2 linked regions of the Homo sapiens genome follow. The protein of the gene in region 2 purifies or fractionates together with the protein of the main gene of each other region. This does not show direct contact. Each region holds a gene or a part of one and is shown on either strand. Other genes may lie near its edges.

What was found.
Region 1: the proteins of GDA (region 2) and LARS1 fractionate together in Homo sapiens (co-fractionation; one large-scale study listed by BioGRID). This does not show direct contact.

The regions. Positions count from the first base shown.
Region 1 is NC_000005.10:146,176,151-146,179,650, reverse strand, and holds part of LARS1 (leucine--tRNA ligase, cytoplasmic), read left to right. Parts: intron 1-1,985; coding exon 1,986-2,104; intron 2,105-3,500. UniProt on the Homo sapiens protein: Aminoacyl-tRNA synthetase that catalyzes the specific attachment of leucine to its cognate tRNA (tRNA(Leu)).
Region 2 is NC_000009.12:72,152,440-72,155,939, forward strand, and holds part of GDA (guanine deaminase), read left to right. Parts: intron 1-3,500. UniProt on the Homo sapiens protein: Catalyzes the hydrolytic deamination of guanine, producing xanthine and ammonia.

The DNA.
Region 1 (3,500 bases), on a different chromosome or scaffold from region 2:
CTCCAGCCTGGGTGGCAGAGGGAGACCCTCTCTCTCTCACACAGACACACACACATAAATACAGTGAAATTTCATATTACCCATGACCGTAGGGTAGGAGATATGACTAGGCTTCATGAGGCCCTACATACTTTTGCCTTTGTGGGTGGGTCCTTTCCTCTGTAAAAATATTAGAAATTATATTTTACAGACCGGGCTGGGTGGCTCATGCCTGTAATCACAGCACTTTGGGAGGCTGAGACGGGTGGACCACCTGAGGTCAGGAGTTTGAGGCCAGCCTGGCCAACATGGTGAAACCTCGTCTCTACTAAAAATACAAAAATTAGCCAGGTATGGTGGCACGCACCTGTAATCCCAGCTGCTCGGGAGGCTGAGGCAGGAGAATTGCTTGAACCCCAGAGATGGAGGTTTCAGTGAGCTGAGATTGGTCTTGCTGTGTTGCCTAGGCTGGAGTGCAGTGGCTCCATCTTGGCTCACTGCAACCACCGCCTCTTGGGTTCAGGTAATTCTCCTGTCTTTGCCTCCCGAGTAGCTGAGATTATAGGCGCATGCCAACGCATCCGGCTAATTTTTGTATTTTTAGTAGAAATGGGGTTTCGCCATATTGGCCAGGCTGGTCTTGAACTCGTAGCCTCAGGTGATCCACCTGCCTCGGCCTCTCAAAGTGCTGGGATTACAGGCATGAGCCACCAAACCTGGCCAAAAAAATTGTTTTTCTTTTAAAGAGGAGGTCTTTCTATGTTGCCTAGGCTGGTCTCAAACTCCTGGCCTCAAATAATCCTCCCTCCTCAGCCTCCCAAAGTGTTGGGATTGTAGACATGAGGCACTACATCCAGCCAAGTTACTTATTAAGAAGAGGTTTTGAAGTGAGAGGGGGCAGTGGCGTTGATAGTCTAAATGAAGGTGGTTAGTAGCAGGAATGGAAAGGGATGAACAGTTGTGCAGGCTTATTATTTCTTAGAAAAGAAAATACCTTATACAATCACTGTTTTATGGAAACTTGAAAAGAGTCCAGGTATTTTTTTTTTTTTGGTGGGGGATGGAGTTTCGCTCTTGTTGCCCAGGCTGGAGTGCAATGGTGCAATCTTGGCTCACTGCAACTTCCACCTCCCAGGTTCAAGCGATTCTCCTGCCTCAGCCTCCCAAGTAGCTGGGATTACAGATGCGTGCCACCTTGCCTAGCTAATTTTTGTATTTTTAGTAGAGATGGGGTTTCACCACGTTGGCCAGGCTTGTCTCTAACTCCTGACCTCAGGTGATCCTCTCACCTCGGCCTCCCAAAGTGCTGGGATTACAGGCGTGAGCCACCGTGTCCAGCCTGTTTTATTTAAATTTCATATGAACAGTTCTTTAACAATTTTGGAGAGAAGTTCTCTATCAGTATCTTTGATATTCATGTATTTTAATTAAATAGAAACATTTGATGACAGTGTTACATTGTAGTATATAATTTTAAAAAAGCATATCAAAGCCTTTTACATATTTCAGTAATTGTTCAACCATTTCTTTGAGGTTTGAGGTACACAGGTCATGATAATCCTAATTTTTTTTTTCTGGCGGAGTCTTGCTGTGTCACCCAAGCTGGAGTGCAATGGCATGATCTCGGCTCACTGCAGCCTCCGCCTCCCTGGTTCAAGCGATTCTCCTGCCTCAGCCTCCTGAGTTGCTGAGATTACAGGTACCCGCCACCACGCCCAGCTAATTTTTGTATTTTAGTAGAGATGGGTTTCGCCCTGTTGGCCAGGCTGATCTCGAACTCCTGACCTCAAGCAATCCACCCGCCTCGGCCTCCCAAAGTGCTGGGATTACACGCATGAGCCACCGCGCCTGGCTGATAACCCTAATTTTTAATGTTCATTTAAATTTCAAGATAACCATGGAAAAATCAGTCTTTATCAGTGAGCAGCTCAGTTCTGTGAACCCAATTCTTTTTTAAAGCAAGCGTGCTGAAATACAGAGTGGATTATTCTCTTTGTGTCCAATAGGAAAGAAAAGGAACAGCCAAAGTGGACTTTTTGAAGAAGATTGAGAAAGAAATCCAACAGAAATGGGATACTGAGAGAGTGTTTGAGGTCAATGCATCTAATTTAGAGAAACAGACCAGGTGAGTAATAGTTTGTGAAGTTCTGCACATTGTATTTCTATATATATATATATATATATATATTTTTTTTTTTTTTTTTTTGAGACGGAGTCTTGCTCTGTCGCCCAGGCTGGAGTGCAGTGGCGCAATCTCGGCTCACTGCAAGCTCCGCCTCCCAGGTTCATGCCATTCTCCTGCCTCAGCCTCCCGAGCAGCTGGGACTACAGGCACCCACCACCATGCCCAGCTAATTTTTTGTATTTTTAGTAGAGATGATGTTTCACTGTGTTAGCCAGGGTGGTCTCGATCTTCTGACCTCGTGATCCACCCGCCTCGGCCTCCCAAAGTCCTGGGATTACAGGCGTGAGCCACCACGCCCGGCCCTGTGCATTGTATTTCTAAAACCGTTGGCTTTATAGTACAGAAACAGCTTGGTGGAACCCATAAGGTAGATTGTATTTATAATGCCTGAAACAGGGTGAAGGAGGTGACTTTCACTTTCTGCATATGAATTAGGATCTTTTTTCTTATGGGGTTTGTAAAGATTTTTTTTTCTAAATAAAGTTTGTTTTGTTTTGTTTTAAAGACTACAGTATTTTAAATATTTAGACAAAGAAGGATGTTTTGAGATTTTTTTCTTTGCTGACTGATAAAACGAAATTATTCTATTAGACTCATAGACGATTATTATCTCCAAAGACAGAAAATGTAAATTTTTATGTTTTTTCTTTACAAGTAAACCTAATGCTTATAGAAGTATAAATGTTGAAGATATTATTTCATAAATACTGCATTGCCTTGATACTAAAATAATACTGATTTAAAGACAAACGTAGATCATGACATGATATTTGGGAAAAACAAAAACAAAATAACTCCCCCAAACATTGCCTTAATAAATGTATGCATCAATTATAAGATATATCCCAGATTCATATATGTTGAGATGTAAGAAAATGTGCTTTTTCAGATTGAAGAAATACGGTTATAGTAACAACAATAATAGTAAGTTAACATTGAACACTTACTGTGTGCTAGCAAATGTGCTAGCAAATTTTTTTACATGTATACTCTCATTTAATCTTCTTTTTCTTTCTTTCTTTTTTTTTTTTTTTTTTTGAGACAGTCTTGCTCTGTCATCAGGCTGGAGTGCAGTGGCGCCATCTCGGCTCACTGCAACCCCCAACTCCCTGGTTAAAGCGATTCTCCTGCCTCAGCCTCCTTAGTAGCTGGGATTACAGGCATGTGCCACCACGCCCAGCTAATTTTTGTATTTTTAGTAGAGACGGGGTTTTACCATGTTGGCCAGGATGGTCTCGATTTCCTGACCTCGTGATCCGCCCACCTCAGCCTCCCAAAGTGCCGGGATTACAGGCATAAGCCACCGTGCCTAGCCTTTTTCTTTCTTTCTTTTTTT
Region 2 (3,500 bases):
AGCATGTAGCTTTTAAGAATATAGACTCTAATGATTGCCATTCTAACTGGTGTGAGCTGATATCTCATTGTGGTTTTGATTTGCATTTCTCTGATGGCCAGTGATGATGAGCATTTTTTCATGTGTCTTTTGGCTACATAAATGTCTTCTTTTGAGAAGTGTCTGTTCATATCCTTTGCCCACTTTTTGATGGGGTTGTTTGTTTTTTTCTTGTAAATTTGTTTGAGTTCATTGTGGATTCTTGATATTAGCCCTTTGTCAGATGAGTAGGTTGTGAAAATTTTCTCCCATTTTGTAGGTTGCCTGTTCACTCTGATGGTAGTTTCTTTTGCTGTGCAGAAGCTCTTTAGTTTAATTAGATCCCATTTGTCAATTTTGGCTTTTGTTGCCATGGCTTTTGGTGTTTTAGACATGAAGTCCTTGCCCATGCCTATGTCCTGAATGGTAATGCCTAGGTTTTCTTCTAGGGTTTTTATGGTTTTAGGTCTAACGTTTAAGTCTTTAATCCATCTTGAATTAATTTTTGCATAAGGTGTAAGGAAGGGATCCAGTTTCAGCTTTCTACATATGGCTAGCCAGTTTTCCTAGCACCATTTATTAAATAGGGAATCCTTTCCCCATTGCTTGTTTTTCTCAGGTTTGTCAAAGATCAGATAGTTGTAGATAGGCGGCATTATTTCTGAGGGCTCTGTTCTGTTCCATTGATGTATATCTCTGTTTTGGTACCAGTACCATGCTGTTTTGGTTACTGTAGCCTTGTAGTATAGTTTGAAGTCAGGTAGCGTGATGCCTCCAGCTTTGTTCTTTTGGCTTAGGATTGACTTGGTGATGCGGGCTCTTTTTTGGTTCCATATGAACTTTAAAGTAGTTTTTTCCAATTCTGTGAAGAAAGTCATTGGTAGCTTGATGGGGAGAAATAGGAATACTTTTACACTGTTGGTGGGACTGTAAACTAGTTCAACCATTGTGGAAGTCAGTGTGGCGATTCCTCAGGGATCTAGAACTAGAAATACCATTTGACCCAGCCATCCCATTACTGGGTATATACCCAAAGGACTATAAATCATGCTGCTATAAAGACACATGCACACGTATGTTTATTGTGGCACTATTCACAATAGCAAAGACTTGGAACCAACCCAAATGTCCATCAATGATAGACTGGATTAAGAAAATGTGGCACATATACACCATGGAATACTATGCAGCCATAAAAAATGATGAGTTCATGTCCTTTGTAGGGACATGGATGAAATTGGAAACTGTCGCAAGGACAAAAAACCAAACACTGCATGTTCTCACTCATAGATGGAAATTGAACAATGAGAACACATGGACACAGGAAGGGGAACATCATACTCTGGGGACTGTTGTGGGGTGGGGGGAGGGGGGAGGGATAGCATTAGGAGATATACCTAATGCTAAATGACGAGTTAATGGGTGCAGCACACCAGCATGGCACATGTATACATATGTAACTAACCTGCACATTGTGCACATGTACCCTAAAACTTAAAGTATAATAAAAAAAAAATATAGACTCTAACATGTTTAATTCATTTGCAAATATTTAATCTTGAGGTAATGCATGCTCAAATATTACTAAGTTGCCTGATTCTTCCCACATACATCAGGGTCAGGTTGACAGTAAAGATGCATAAACATGCCTTGGGCCTTTTAATGCACACTTACCCAGAAACAAGAGTGAGGAAGAGATTCATTTTGAGGTTGTGTCCTGGGGTGGCAGGAGCAAGTCCAATGGAGGAATAGAGACTTGGGTTCAGGTCAGAGTCTCTACCACTTACCTGTGCTGAGACCACAGGTGAGACCTAACCTGCCTGAGCCTCCGTTTCCTCATTTGTAGAGTCAGATTTCCTTTTGCTATTTATTAAATGAGATAATGTATGAAAATGCCTGGCACTTAGTGGATACTTAACATGTACCATGTTCATTCTATTCCCTTTGCCTCCTAGCAAATCCTTAACCTCTTGCTCACTGTGATATTTTGCATGTTTTCACATGGTGACATGCCAAGTGGTAGAGAAGGAAGCCACGGCCTGTGATGAACTGTATGGGGTGGTCACAGAACCTTAGCTTTTTATTCTCACTGCTTATGTCATTGATCCCCTGGGACCCAAAGATGCACCCTGGAAGAAAGATCAAGAAGCATTTGGTGCTAGATTCACTAGCAAGCTATCTTTAGTATCTCTTTTAGACTTGACAATGTCATTATTTCCACTAACAGATGAGGAAGTTGAGACTTGAGAAGTCATGCATTCAGATACGGTGGTGGTGTAGCTGGATTTTGAATTAGTATGGGGCAAAGGCCATGTTCTCTTTACTGTCGCTGACTGCTTCTCTAGGGCACAGTCCTGGACCTCAAAGAATCTGCACTTTGGCACGGGAGCTAAGACTTGTAGCTGTAATAAAAGTGACTCATTCCTGAGCCAAACACTGGGGTTTTCACCGGAGATAAATTGATGAACAAAGTATGCAAATACTGCCCTGCCCTCTTGAAACTGATGATCTAGTAATAAATTAACAGAATCTGCCATGACCTATCAGAACTTGAACTAGTTAGGGGAAGGCTTTCCCTAGCGTGAAGTGACATCAAACTTGCGATGTGAACAATGAGAAGTTAAGTAGGTATATTAGTCAATTTTCACATTGGTGACAAAAACAACCTGAGACTGGGAAGAAAAAGAGGTTTAATTGGACTTACAGTTCCACATGACTGGGGAGCCTCAGAATCATGGCAGGAGGTGAAAGACACTTCTTACATGGCGGCAGCAAGAGAGAATGAGGAAGATGAAAAAGCGGAAACTCCTGATAAACCCATCAGATCTCGTGAGACTTATTCACTACCATGAGAACAGTATGGGGGAAACTGCCCCCATGATTCAAGTTATCGCCCACTGGGTTCCTCCCACAACATGTGGGAATTAGGGGAGTACAATTCAAGATGAGATTTGGATGGAGGCACATCCAAACCATACCAATAGGTAAGGTGGACAGCATTGGAAGTAAAGAAGAGCCTTCTAGGTTGAGAGAACTGCCTGTGACTGCCTGTGCAAAGGTCCTGGGGTAGGAAGGAATGAAACAGTCAAGGTAGTCAGAGTCCAAAGGTTGAGGAGAAGGCTAACACAGGATAAGGCAGGACAGGTAGGCAGGGCTATGTTATGGAGGGCATCGGGGATGGTGGGATTGTGTCATGATTATATTTTGTGGTTATAAAGGTCTAACTTCAGGATAAATGCATTGAAGAGAAGTTGAGTGCAGGCAAGGAGGTCAGATAGGAGCCTGTTGCAGTATTTAGGTAAAATGGAATGTGGTTTAGATGAGAGAGGCAGTGTAGTTATCAACTGAGATATGAACTCCTAAGAGTACCTCTATCACTTATTACCTATGTGAATTTGATCAAGTTCCTTACCATTTGTATCTCCAAATTTCTTTATGCATAAAATAATTACTATGGTCTACCTAATAGGGTTGTTGAAAGG